Linked DNA regions of Homo sapiens. The protein of the gene in region 2 interacts with the protein of the main gene of each other region in a pairwise test. Each region holds a gene or a part of one and is shown on either strand. Other genes may lie near its edges.

Evidence for each region.
Region 1: the proteins of GPR143 (region 2) and TYR interact in binary tests that used the Homo sapiens proteins (3 or more experiments, as listed by UniProt).

Annotation. Positions count from the first base shown.
Region 1 is NC_000011.10:89,187,722-89,194,998, reverse strand, and holds part of TYR (tyrosinase precursor), read right to left. Parts: intron 3,798-7,277; coding exon 3,581-3,797; intron 1-3,580. UniProt on the Homo sapiens protein: This is a copper-containing oxidase that functions in the formation of pigments such as melanins and other polyphenolic compounds. Catalyzes the initial and rate limiting step in the cascade of reactions leading to melanin production from tyrosine.
Region 2 is NC_000023.11:9,762,573-9,770,589, forward strand, and holds the start of GPR143 (G-protein coupled receptor 143), read right to left. Parts: upstream 3,276-8,017; 5' UTR 3,246-3,275; coding exon 2,996-3,245; intron 1-2,995. UniProt on the Homo sapiens protein: Receptor for tyrosine, L-DOPA and dopamine.

The DNA.
Region 1 (7,277 bases), on a different chromosome or scaffold from region 2:
GTGAGGAAAACTTGCTTCCGAATCTTGATCTTGAGTTTCCTTCCCAATGAAAGAAAACATTACTCCTTGGAGTCATGGCTAATTTCAGGCCTGGAGCATTGTAGGTACAAGATGCTCTAGAATAATTTGCTTACCAGAGAGAATGTGTGTTTTAAAAAATGTGTATATGAAATGGAGACATAAGAACCAGCTTGAAGGTGTACCATGGGCAAATTCTGGAACCATTGGAACACAAAGATAATTAAGCACATCAATGAGTTATACACTATCAAACAATGGAAAGCCTTTACTCCATACCATTAATATAGATAGATGATAGATAGATAGATAGATAGATAGATAGATAGAAAAAATGGAGGATTTTTGCTAATAGTAGAATCCTGAATATTGGCTAATAAATTTAAAAGCAGTGCTGAAGTTGAAAAATCATAAATTTGTAACCATCGACGATGCCAACTGTAGAAGAAATTGTGATAAGAGGTGAGGTATTTGCATAGTCTTAAAATGTCTCCATGTAGACAGTTTATTAAACAAGGGGAAGAAATAATTATACAGTGGGAAAATTGGACCACATCTGGAGTAGGTGATTAACATCACCAACGTGAGACAGATGGTCATGATGTGCCTCCAGATGTGACACCATCTCAGAAAGATGCATAATCACCTATGTGGAATTTTGGCTAATAGTGCATTACCTGGATCTAGTCATGAAGAAATATTAGATACACTCAAAATGAAGAATGTTCTATTAAAAAAATGAGGAGGAAGAGGAGGAACTATATCCTCCAGAGCTGTCAAGCACATAAAGACACATATGTACAAGGTTATGGAAATATTTCAGACTAAAGAACCATGAAAACTAAATGCTATTTGATCCTAGACTAGATTCTATTTTGGAGAGGAAAAATACTGAGGATATTATTATATCTAATTTTAAAAACTGATATACAGTAGATTTGATAAAAGCATTATATCAATATAGAGTTTACTGAAGTTGAAAACTGTTCTGTGGCTATATGAGTCTATTCCTATTCTTAGGAAATACACACTAAAATATTCAGGGGTAAAGAGTTACAGTCTATGCAATTTACCCTTAAAATGGCTCAGACTGGGAGAGAGAGAGAGAGAAACAGGATACAATGTAAGTAAGTTTGGGTAAAATATATATTCATGTTTTTTGTATTGCTTTTATTTTCACAACATCTCTGTAAGCTTAAAATTATTGCTGAATACAAATTTAAGAAAAAATAATTTTAAAATGTGTACCTGGTAAAGAAAAGTTCTTCTTAGCAGCTGAGCTTAATGGTTTCTCACATTTTCTCTCATGACATGGACTTCATACAACAGGCATGGATAAGGTAAGTGGTGGTTTAGATGCAATTTGAAAGATTCTAGCTATTATTTACATACTCGGTTATCAGATACTTACCGAACGACTGTGTGCCAGACAATATGCTATGTTGCATCTGTTTGCTTCTCACACACTTTGCCTACTAAAGTGTGTAAGAATGAGAATAAATTATGGGAAAAAATAATTTACAAACATAAATTATTTGTAGTAGCAAATTATTTGTAGTAAATCTGCTGTTCCCTCCTCACCTGTGTGTATTAGACTCTCACTTGAAAACCACTGGCTGAGTTGACACATCTTGAGCCACTTTTTTTCTTTGACTTGAGACCCTAGACGAGTGATGTTCCCCTGCCTTATTTCTGCAACTAACCCATGCTTCTTAATAATAAAATATATGCTTTGTCACTTATGGCTGAAAAAACAGCAAAATGCTCCAGTTTCCTTAAAGATGTAGCTTCGCTTTGCAATGTCATTAATATCAGCATTCTGAGTACTGTTGTTAATCCCTGAAGAGTCCAGTGGGTCACCCAATCCTCCCAGATGGTGACTTTGAAATTGTGTACCTTAGATTTGTTATATAGGCTCTGAGATTACCTGGCATTATGTCTTGCCTTCTTATGTCAAAAGACCAAACTGGTATTGTCCACTTTAAAGAAACTCTCAACCCACTGTTGATTATCAGAGTGCAATGGAAAGAACTTGGACTTTGGTACTTGATAAAGCTGGGGGCAGATTATCTCCACCACTTTTCAATGGGAATCAATAACCAAAAGATGAATATCTCTGATAATGTTTCCTCCCTTAAAAGTGGGAATAATAAATACAATCTTCCTCAGGGGATAGTTATTAGAATTGAGTGAATTAATGCCATACAAAGTGTTTGACATGGTGTTTTGGATACGGTGATTACTTTAAAAAGTTAATCATGAATATTACCATAGAAGAATAAACCTAATTTCTATTTTCATAGCTGGAAAACAGAATTCATCTTTAGGATGAGACTTGCCTTGCTTCAATTGATTCTGGATGTAAGACCCTGAGATTATGGTTTTGAATAAAACAGGGAAATGAATGAAACAGTAAAACCACTCTGCACAGTACAATAATAAAAGTTGGGGTGTAAAACAATGACAAAAAGGAAAAAAAAAGAACAAGTCAAGGAGAAAGGATTACAAAAGAGAGGAAAGTTTTTCTACATGTTAAGGTGTCACAGGCCTTTTAGGAGCTGCGATGTCTAGTGTTAAATTTTGAGTTGTCTGCCTTGCCACAAGTCAGTGCCTATGTCTTCCCCAAACTCCTGGTAAATTTGTGACTTGATTGAGTTTTTTTTTGTTTGTTTTTGTTTTGTTGTGTTTGTTTGTGATTTTGTTTTCCTAATGCAAATTTATGTGAGTGAAATGGGTTTCATGACTGAGTCAGCTATAAGCAGAAAAGAATGAATCGATGTTTGAATGCAAAATGCAAGCAAGATGAAAACATTTGTAGGATAAATATTTAGGAGTTAGAGAAGATCATGAGATGTAATCTCTGATGAAGAACAGAAAACTTAAGGGATAATGAGAGGGAGGCTTTACCTATGTGCTGTGTCCTTATTACAGTTAAATGAATGAACTTACCTCAAAGAACCCACTGCCTAGAATATTTTAAACAGGAGAAAACTAAAACACTAAAACGTAGGAAAATAGTATCAGTCCACAGACTTATATCTGAAATTCCACAATACAAAATGTTCTGGAAATGAAATTAATTTTTCTCTTTTAATGGAAAAAACTGACTTTACTCACCATTAGGTTGCCTATTGCCTGTATTTATTACCATGATGAATATATTCATATATTTCACTAAAGCTGCTACTGCTGCTTCTTCTGCTTCTGCTGCTGCTTCTTTCCTCAGAGTCTCTCACTTTGTTACCGAGGCTGGAATGCAGTGACACAATCATAGCTCACTGCAGCCTGAAACTTCTGAGTTCAAGTGATCCACCTGTCACAGCCTCCCAAGTAAACTGGGATTACAGGCATGAGCCACCATGCCTGGCTCCTGAAGCTAACACGTTGAATTATAACGTGCTGACCAGTGTCAGCTAGGGTCATTGTCGATATAAGTATATACAACACATATTCTTGGTCAACTCAGAAAATTCTGAATTCTCAAATACCTCCTAGGACTTTGGATAAGAGACTGTAAATATGAATTCAGAAAAAAAATTAAAAGTGAAAAGAAAGAGATTACCTTCCAGTGTATTTCTAAAGCTGAAATTGGCAGCTTTATCCATGGAACCAGATTCATATTGGGTCAAACTCAGGCAAAATTCTACATCAGCTGAAGAGGGGAGCCTTGGGGTTCTGGATTTGTCATGGTTTCCAGGATTACGCCGTAAAGGTCCCTCGGGCGTTCCATTGCATAAAGACTGATGGCTGTTGTACTCCTCCAATCGGCTACAGACAATCTGTACAAAACACCCTCATGTTAAACAAATTGTCACCACCACTGAGTCAGTAGGAGAAGGCAGAAATGTTGGAACTCCTAATTATCGTTGTTAGACTTCTCCTGAGGAGATTACTACAATCATGTGTCTTTAATGACAGGGATATGTTCTGAGAAATCCATCATTAGGTGATTTTGTCATTGCGTGAACATCATAGTCAGTGTACTTGCACAAACCTAGAATGGTATAGCCTACTAAACATCTTGGCTGTTTGGTAAAACCTACTGCTCCTAGGCTACAAATCTGTCCAGCACATTACTGTACTGAATACTATAGGCAATTGTAAGATAATGGCAAGTATCTATACATCTAAACCTATCTAAACATGTAAAAGGTACAGTAAAAATACAGTATAAAATTTTTTTTTAAATGGCATACTTGTATATACAGGACACTTACCATAAATGGACCTTGCAGGACTAGAAGTTGCATTGGGTAAGTAAGTGAGGGAATAAGGAGTGAATATAAAGGCCTAAGATACTACTCTACACTACAGTAGATTTTATAAACACTATATATATATCGGCTACATTAAATTTATAAAAATATTTTTCTTTTTTAATGATAAATTCACCTTAGCTTCCTGTAACTTTTTTACTTAATTTTTTAAAACTTTTTGAGTCTTTTGATAATAGCACTTAGCTTAAAACACATATTGTACAACTGTAGGAAATATTTATTATATCCTTAGCCTATAAGCTTTATGCTATTTAATTTTTTACTTATTATAAACATAATTGAAATTTCGTTAAAAACTGAGACACAAGCATACACACTAGCATAGGCCTACACAGAGTCAAAGTTGTCAATATCATTGTCTTCCACCTCCACATCTTGTCCCACTGGAAAATCTTCAGGGGCAATAGTACACATGGAGCTATCATCTCTATAACAATCTCTATAAAACATCCAGGCGTTTTGTGGAACACCTCCTGGAGAGCCTGCCTGAGGCTGTTTTACAGTTAACTTACTTTTTTATAAGTGGAAGAAGTACATTCGAAAATAATGATAAAATATAGATAGTAAATACATAAACCAGTAACATAGTTGTTTATTATCATTATCAAGTATTATGTAGTGTACATAATGCTATGTGCTAGACTTTTATACAAGTGGGATTTCAGTAGGTTTACACCAGCATCACCACGAAGACATGAGTAATGCATTGTGTATAATATTATGACTGCTATGATGTCACTGGGTGACAGGAATTTTTCAGCTCCATTATAGTAGTGTGGGACCTCTGTCATATATGTGGTCCATCCTTGACAGAAATGCCATTGTGTGGCATACTACTGTATTTTAGAATTAGCTTTTTGAAGGTTACAGAATGAGCCATAAAAGTTAAAACCTGGAACAGGATTCTAGTGTTGCATCTACCACTTAAGAAAATGATTTAACTGTCTAGGCCTCATCTATCAAATGAAGATAATAACAACTACCTCACATAGTTATAGAAAATAAAATATTTATTAAACACCTATTATATATTAAGCACTGTGCCAAGTGCTGAGGCTGGGGTTGGTAACAATAGAGATAGGCATCTTACTGTATATAAAGCCCATAGCACATGGCATGACCAACAGAAAACACTCAATAAACAGTAGCTTTAAAAACATTAATCTATATTATATTCAGAATGTCAAGGACTAGAAATAGTTTCATTTTGTGCTTTTTGTTCATAAAATATCCTATTATTGTCCCTTTTTTTTTTGATGTGCAGTACAATACTCGTGGTTGATTGTTTTTTAAGAAAAGAAATTTCTCTGATCCTTTAGCTAGAACCAAGGTGATTTTCATTGTAGAAATACCGTCTTAAAAATAAGAATTTCTCACCTTTCTATAAGCAAAACTTTTTAAGAAAACACGGCACATGCATTGTTTCATTTACATCACAAAACAATACATTTCGCTTCACAAATAAGGAAAATGAGACTCAGAGAGGGTAAGTGGCATTTCTCAGGTTATATGGCAAATAAATGGCAGTGTTGTGATGGCAACCCAAGTTTTCCAACTTCATCTTTAGTGTATTTTGTGCTTTTATAACTAGTCTAGCAGAACTCAACATTAAAAAATTTTTAAAAGTAGGTTCTAGGTTAAAATAAAATAGAGAGTTCTAGTCCTGTATCTCAGTTGTGGCTGACAACAGGATGTTGTTCTTTGTTGGTTTCCCTAAACCTTGATCAAATTTTTCTAAATAAACTGTCTTAATATAACTTGGTTTGGGTATCTATTTCCTACTGAGATCCTGACTGATGCAAACATTATTTCCTACTGATCTTTCCCTTTCCCTCTCTTCTATAACTTCACTGGCCTCTTTGCCCTTCCCAAAACTCACCAATCACTCTTATGCAACATGTTCCTGTACTGGTTATTTTTTCTGGGTAGACTGTTTTCCCTTGATACCTGCTTGGGTTATTCATATCTTCATTATCTTAATGAAATCTACACTAAACATCTATTTAACATCATATTCAGCCTTACCCACTTTAGCAGTGTTGTAGAGCTGGTTAGCACTAGCTAGCAAAAGTTCAAAGTGTGTAACCCTTCTCAATATTAGAATGTTCAGCAGTATCCCATCATTAGATGGAAATCTACCATTGTCAGTATTTACACCACAACAATTGGCAAATCAGAATCATCTCTCCCTACTTTCCCACTCCTCCATTGAGAACAAGTTATTAAACATTTACTGTACACCACTAATTTCTGCTTTATCTGTGCACTTAGCACCTTCTAACAAACTATGTAATCAAAAGAACTCTCATAGAATGATTGATTTATTGTTGCTGCTTTTCAAACCGAAGTTTTAAAATGTCTATGTGTCAGGCATTATACCAGAATACAAGAATACATACTGAACACGATAAACATAGTTTTTATTTTTATAGAGTTTACAGTCTAATAAGTATGGTCATGAAGATTTAATGTCTATACCATATTGCCTTATTCATTGACTTAAACATTTTTAATAAGTATTAGCATTTTAAGTATTGAGTACTTTATGTAACTTACCTTCTAGTGGAGTAGGTCTAGGAAGTGTGAGTGGGTGAGACAGTAAAACAATATATATAACTTATTATATTTTTTAACTCCTTTAACTTTTTTAAATAAAATATTATATATAATGTTTTACTGTCTCACCACACACACTTACTAGACCTACTCCACTAGAAGATAAGTTACATAAAATACTCAATACTTAAAGTGCTAATATTTTTGTAAATGAATTTTTAAATCAATGAATAAGGCAATATGGTGTATATATTTAATCTTTATAAACATACCTGTTAGGTGATAAACTCTATCAAAATATAAACTGTATCCTATTCACTATGTATTATTGTGTAATGGTATGGTGCCTGACACAAAGACATTTGAAAACTTTGGTTTGAAATTCAATAACAGTAAATCAATTATTCTATGAGAGGAGTTCTTTTG
Region 2 (8,017 bases):
ATGCTACGTAATATACTACTAAACACATACCATGTAATATACCACTAAACACACACTATGTAATACACTACTAAACGACAACTGTGAACACTAAAAAGCTCAAGACATCTTCTCATTATCAAGCCACTGCCAACAAAAACAATGCCTTTCTTCTGTACGGTGCCTTAGAATTTTCAGCATTTATCACTCCTTTGAGCTTAATAAAAGCCCTATCCCATGGGCATTGAAATTTCTTATTTTTCAGTAAGGGGTCCCGATCACCCAGCCTTTTCCTGACTTCTGCTTATTTGCTCGCAACCTCATCCACTTCCCTTCTAAAGGCTAAAGGATATGCAAGTATTATTCACTAACCCTCAAAAGATGTTTGGGTACACCTTACTTTTTTAGAGACAGGGTCTTGGCTGTCACCCAGGCTGGATCGTAGCTCACTCTAGCCTGGAATTCCTGGGCTCAAATGGTCCTCCTGCCTCAGCCTGGTGAGTAGCTGGGACCACATGTGCATCCCACCATGACGGGCCTTTTTTTTGTTGTTTTTTTTTTCTTGGGGGTAGAGCCTGGGTCTCGTTACGTTGCCCAGGCTAGTCTTGAACTCCTGGGTTCAAGCAATCCGTCCACCACAGCCTCCTGAGTAGTTAGGATTACAGGCGTGAGCCACCGCACCTTTAGGAGGCCGAAGTAGGAGGATCGCTTGAGCCTAGAAGTTTGACCAGCCTGGGCAAGATGGTGAGACTCCAGCTCTGAAAAAATAATGCAAAAATTAGCCAGTGTGGTGATGCATGCCTGTAGTTCCAGCTGCTCAGGAGGCTGAGGTAGGAGGATCCCTTGAGCCTAGAAGTTCGAGGCTGCAGTGAGCTATGATCATGCCAGCACACTCCAACCTGGGCAACAGAGTGAGACCCTGTCTCAAAAATAAAGTGATAATGATATTGGGGTTGCAAATGTTTAGAATTATTATGTTTTAGGGCTCTCTCTGAGATCTGAATGGGCAGGATGATGGAGCCTGAGATTGGCTTCACATTAATCCAGTGAGGAGGGTGAAGAGGGGAGCAGATGAGCCGGGTACCCGTACCTCACGAATCCCACGTACAGGGATTCACTGTAAGTGTTTCTATTATAGACTGCATTTACGCATGGTGGAAATGTTCCAAAAAGCTAAACAGAATGGCCAAATCTAGCTGAGAGGTCTGTATAAAGTGTCACATAATAGTTTAAAGCAGATGTTGGCAAACTCATTCTTAATATTTTTGGCTTTGGGAGCCATACTTTCTCAGTCCAATATTCACCCTGCCCTTGTAGGGTAAAGGCAGCCATGAATAATTCACAAATGCACATGAACAACATAGCTGCGTTCCCATCAAACTTTATTTGTAGACATTAACATTTAAATTTCAGTAATAGTCACATGCCAGGAAATATTTTTTAATTTTGATTTTTAAAAACATTTTAGGGCTGGGTGAGGTGGCTCACGCCTGTAATCCTAACACTTTACGATGCCAAGGGTGGTGATCTTTTAATTAAGCCCAGGAGTTGGAGACCAGCCTGGGCAACATAGTGAGACCCCACATATATTTACCCTAGCATGGTGGCGTGTGGCTGTAGTCCCAGCTACTCGGGTAGCTGAGGTGGGAGGATCGCTTGAACCCAGGAGGTCGAGGCTGCAGTGAGCTGTGATTGTGACACTGCACTCAACCTGGGCAAGAGGGTGAGACCCTGTCTCAAAAAACAAAATCATTAATTTTTTAAAAAGTAGGATGTAAAACCATTCTTAGCTCGTGGACCCTAGAAAACGGGCAGGATTTGGTCTGAGGGCTGCAGTTTGCGCACCTGTGGTGTAAAAACCATACCCAAAAAGCCTGGATAGGGAAGGGATTTCAGCTTACAAAATACTCGAGAGAATATATAGTGCACAATAGAAAAGAATTTACACACGCGCACACACACACACACACACACACACACACACACACACACAGAGCGAGACAGAGAGAAGTTAATTGTTAGTCTCTCCCTGGTGCAGTTGGGCAAAAATGAGGAAATCTTTTCTGGTCTGGGTTTTGCTTAACTGCGCCATCTGAAGTTTCCATATAACAAACACAATAAACGGATTTTTTAAAACCCAACGTCCCTTGGATGGGAATTTTACCGACCATGTGTTTGCAAAACTACCTAGTCGGCCGGGCGCGGTGGCTTACGCCTGTAATCCCAGCACTTTGGGAGGCCGAGGCGGGTGGATTACCTGAGGTCAGGAGTTCGAGAGCAGCCTGGCCAACATGGTGAAACTCCGTCTCTACTAAAAATACAAAAATTAGTCGGGCATGGTGGCGCGCGCCTCCCCCAGCTACTCGGGAGGCTGAGGCAAGAGAATCCCTTGAACCCGGGAGGTGGAGGTTGCAGTGAGCCGAGATTGCGCCACTGCACTTCAGTCTGGGCGACAGAGCAAGACTCCGTCTCAAAAAAAAAAAAAAAAATTACCTAGTTGTCCCATCCGGTCCCTAGGGAACAGCCTCCGCTTTCTCTTTTCTCTGTGGTTCAAGTGTTAAGACGGCCAGCCCAACCCGCTAGCCGTGCGCCATCACCCGGGCACCGATCAAGTTCCAACCCGAGTGGATCGAGTTCCAACCTGCGGGCCATGCGCCCTCACCCGGGCATCGATCCGGTCTCAACCTGCGGGCCACGCACTCTCACCCGGGGATTGAGCAGGTCCCAACCCCAGGGCCTCACGCCCTCACCCCAGCACTGAGCAGGTCCCAACCCGCGGGCCTCAAGCCCTCAGCCGGGGACCGAGCAGGTCCCAACCAGCCAGCTACGCGCCCTCAGCCCTGCACCGGGCAGGTTCCAACCCGCGGGCCTCTCGTCCTCACTCCATCACGGAACAGGTCCAAATCCACAGGCCGTGCGCCCTTATCCGGGCACCAGTCGGGTCTCAACCTGCGGGCCACGCGCCCTCACCCAGGCGCTGATCAGATTCCAACCCGCGGGCCGCGCGCGCCCTTACCCAGGCAGCCGAGAAGGTCGCAGGCAGCGGCAGCGCGCAGGATGCGGACCGAGGCCGGCGGGGACGTCGCGGGGGACCCGGGGCCCGCGGGCCGGCGGCCGGGCAGCAGCTGCAGAAGGCCCAGCGCCAAGCGGAGCCCGCCGCTGCCCAGGCAGAGCGCGTGGAAGGCCCGCGGCTGGAAGCTCAGCACGAGCTGCGTGGCTGCGTCCCGCGTGGGGCAGCAGAAGGTCCCTAGGCGCGGGGAGGCCATGGGCTGTGTTCGCGGACGCGGCTCGGGTGTGCCAGGACCCCGCCGGCCTGCCTGGGTCATGTGCTGGGCGGGCTGGGGGCGGCATCATGTGCCCTGGGCCTCTCCCCCACCCCAACCCCCAGCGCCTGCAGTAGAGCCAGGCTCGGTGGGGGCCGAGAGCACTGGGCTAACGCCACGAGGCCTCACGAGGTGATGCTTGGGCGGGCGGAGGAGGAGGACAGAGAGAGGGAGGGCTGAGAGGAGAGGAAGAGGGAGGAGGAGGAGGGAAGTGGAAGGAGAAGCAGAAAGGTTGGGAAGGTTACCTTTCTCCCCATTCACCAAGCCTTCCTGGTGGTTTCTCTGCCACCTAGAGCGCCAAACCTGCCATCTTTACTGGTCTTCTAGAGAAACAGGCCTCGTGGACTAGATCTTTCCTATTTGGGACTCTGACATCCTGATTTTGATGCCTTTAAGGCGCCAGAACATGTTCATAAACTGTGACTGATCCCTGTAACTGCTTTTTTCCTAAGTAGAGATGGTTGTCCAATTAGTGCTTTTTTTTATGGCCTCTCTCATTCATGGATATAATCCCACAGAGGCAGGATTTTCGTTTACAATTAATGAATGAAACAAACAGATCAATGTTAAAGAAAGAGCAGTAGCTCACACCTGTAATCCCAGCACCTTGGGAGGCCGAGGCAGGCAGATCGCTTGAGCTCAAGAGTTGGAGACCAGCGTGGGCAACATGGCGAAACCCCACCTCTATTAAAAATACAAACATTAGCCCGGTGTGGTGGCCCAGGCCTGTGATCCAAGCTACTCGGCAGGCTGAGGTGGGAGGATCGCTTGAGCCCAGGAGGTGGAGTTTGCAGTGAGCCAAGATAGTGCCACTGCACTCCAGCCTGAGCGATAGAGCCAGACCTTGTATCAAAAAACGAAACAAAACAAAAATTAGCTGGATGTGGTGGGGCGTGCTTGTAGCCCTAGCTTCTGGGGAGGCTGAGGTGGGAGGATCACTTGAGCCCGGCAAGTGGAGGTTGCAGTGAGCAGAGATTACACCACTGCACTCCAGCCTGAGCAATGGAGTGAGACCCTATCTCTCTCTCTCACACACACACACACACACACACACACACACACACACACACACAGAATTAAGTTTAAAATTTAAAAACATTAAAAAAATAAAGGGAAAAGTACTCAGCATAAGTACACACAGACACATTTTGCACCTTAACTTTCAGTTCTATTTATTTGGATTTTTCTTAACTGCGTTAATTTTTCTATGTTTTCTCATACATTGAAAATCTTGCTTTATTCTATACATGTAAGTTTCCAAGTAATATTGTGTTAATGATTACAGTAAGCATACTAAGATTTTTTTTTTTAAGTTCTTCAAGGCTGAAAATAGAAGTGCTCCTTCTAGATTATGGCCTTTATTTTAAAAAAAGAAAAGAAAAAAAAATCCAGCTCCATCATATTTATCATCTTCAACAAACCTCATTGGCTCTTTGTGACCACACAAGAGACACCCTTCCTCCTCTCTCCTGGTAAAATGGGCCCCTCTCTGGGTTTTTTTCAAGCAACCAAGGTGCAGGTGTCCCCATTGTGTTCATGGACTTTCCTCACTTGTTCTCCCCACCAGCTTTGCGGTTTTAAGGAAGGCATGATCTGTGCCGTCTTCCTCTAGGGATAGCAGGACTGGCCTTCCCTTGGGACCCCACAGAAGGCAGGCGGGAGGCTCCACTGCCAGACAGGAAGCGGAGCCTTATTTAACAACAATGAGGTGCAAACTCCACCACTTCAAAAGAGTCCAGATCTGGCACGTCTATAAACGCAGCCTGTTCACTCCACAGCTGCCTTCCTAGAAGTCAGAACAGACTGACATCTTCAGAAAGCTTAACAGCTCTGCTGGATTACACACTCCATTGTAAAAACAGTCAGAAGCACCATAGAACTACTCCCCAAGCATTAATGTTTAAAAGCTTGAATTCTAATATCTAATTTGGACAGTGGCTCTCTTTCCTTCTGCCTTGGTAAGCAGAGTTGCTTCTGGAGGTTAGTGTAATGGAAAGTGCTTTAAAAGATAAAAATGAAGAGTGTCTGTACATTTGCCTGAAGGTTGAGGGCCAGTGGGCCAGGCAAAGGGGTCCCTGCATTTGAGTCACTGTTTCATGCCCCAGAAAACACACTCCGCCTCTCTGCTTCCTACGTGATAACCTGGGAGTACTCTCCAGGGGGCTCTGGCTGACTCTGGTGCCCACTACTCAAGCTCAGTAGTCAGAATCTCATCAGTGAGAAAATGGATATGAATGCAGATTCCTAGGGCCATGGCACAGATGACAATGGTAAAGATGAGCCTCAGAGTAAAGGTGCAGAAGCATGAGTGTAAGACTAAATTTAAAACCCTGTCATCAAAGTGAGAGGGAACTAGAAATTGGTATGAGAGGCTGGGCCCAGTGGCTCACACCTGTAATCTCAGCACTTAAGGAGGCTGAGGCAGGAGGATTACTTGAGCCCAAGAGTTTGAGACCATCCTGGGCAACATAGTGAGAGCCCATCTCTAGCGTCTTCCTCTAGGAGCAGCATCTTTTGAAGTGGTGGAGTTTGCAGCTCATTGTTGTTAAATAAGGCTCTGCTTCCTGTCTGGCAGTGGAGCCTCCTGCCTGCCTTCTGTGGGGTCCCAAGGGAAGGCCAGTCCTGCTGTCCCTAGAGGAAGACGACACATCTCAAATTAGCAGAGCGTGCTGCTGCGCACCTGTAGTTGCAGCTACTGGGGAGGATGAGGTGGGAGGATCACTTGAGCCCAGGAGTTTGAGGTTGCAGTGAGCTGTGATTGCACCACCAAACTCCAGCTTGGGTGAACTGAGATGACAAACTTTTTTTTTTTTTTTCCTTTGAGACAGAGTCTTGCTCCATTGCCCAGGCTGGAGTGCAGTGGCGTGATCTCAGCTCACTGCAATCTCTGCCTCCTGGGTTCAAGTGATTCTCATGCCTCAGCCTCCTGAGCAGCTGGGACCACAGGCACATGCCATCACACTCAGCTAATTTTTTGTCTTTTTAGTAGAGATAGGTTTCGTCATGTTGGCCAGGCTGGTCTTGAACTCCTGGCCTCAAGTGATCCACCCGCTTTGGCCTCTCAAAGTGCTGGGATTACAGGCATGAGCCATCATGCCTGGCCTGACAAAACTTTTCATGAAACAGTACAACTACAAATCTGAGAAAAGTGAAGCAAATACACACGCACACACTTGGGAGGCAGAAACATCTGGAAGTTTCGTAGATATGGGAGATACAGGGATGGCGGTGCTGAATATGAACTTTGAGGTATGTGTGCAGAAACAATCGGTCTTTGAGTACATGAAGGTACATCTGTTTTTGCATGAACCCTTCCTCCGTTTTTCCCTCCTTCCCAGTTTAGCACCTGAATTCGCTCTCCATTTTCACAGTTTGGGCTGCCTGGGGCATCTGTTCCCTGGAAATGCTCCATCATCTTGGCTTTCTCTCATTCCACAATCCACCATTTACCCACCATTCCCACTTGATCAGATGCACTTGATCAACTGCTGGAAGACGGTTCCTGAGTTTCTCTCCCAGGCAGTTTATTTTTCATGGTGAGTCCCCTGACATCGAGATGTCTCAACCAAAAGAATGGGGTTTATGGTGAGACTCAGATATCCCTTAGAATCCAGTAGAGGAGGTGGCTAGGGGCAGATGGATGGCAGAAACAGCCTAAGTAAGGAGACTGCCATTCACAATAATTTGAATTTAAATAATAAATAAGATTTGTTTATTTATTTATTGACATGGAGTCTCACTATATCATCCAGGCTGGAGTGCAGTGGTGCGATCTCAGCTCACTGCAACCTCTGCCTCCCGGGTTCAAGTGATTCTCCTGCCTCAGGCTCCCAAGTAGCTGGGATTACAGGCGCCTGCCACCACACCTGGCTATTTTTTGTATTTAGAGTACAGACGGCGTTTTGCCAAGTTGTCCAGGCTGGTCTCGAACTCCTGACCTCAGGTGATCCGCCCGCCTCAGCCTCCCAAAGTGCGGGGATTGCAGGCGTGAGTCACTGCGCCCAGCCTAATAAATAAGATTTAAATAATAAAATAATTTATGGAGTGTAGGCAGGCACTATGCTTTGAATATTACATTCATTATCTCATTTAATATTCAGAATGAGCCTTCCAAGTGGGTTTTACTGATACTTAAATTGATATAGACAAAACATGGCCAGGTGCAGTGGCTTATGTCTGTAATCCCAGTACTTTGGGAGGCCAAGGTGGGAGCATTGTTTGAGCCCAGGAGTTCAAGACCAGCCTGGGGCAACATAGGGAGACCCTGTCCCCCACCTCCCCCAGTCAAAAAAAAAAAAAAAAAAAAAAAAAAAAAAGCCGGGCTCAGTGGCTCACACCTGTAATCCTAGCACTTTGGGAGGCTGAGGCGGGCAGATCACCTGAGGTCAGGAGTTCACTACACTCCAGCCTGGGCGACAGAGCAAGAACAGGAGAAAGAAAGAAAGAAAAAGAGAGAGAGAGAGAGAGAGAGAGAGAGAGAGAGGAAGACCAGCCAATACATAAGTCCATGGGTATGGCTGTGTGCCAATAAAACTTTATTTACAAAACAGGCAAAGGGCCATAGGCTGCAGTTCCTGTAAGTCTACCACCTGAGGCTCTGGCTTATCTAGCAGCTGCTTGAAAGGCTGGGCAACAACCGAGAAATGGAGGAGGATTAACACTTAGTGGGGCAGACAAACTTATTCCAATGAGAGAGGAAGCAGGAAGTCACTGGC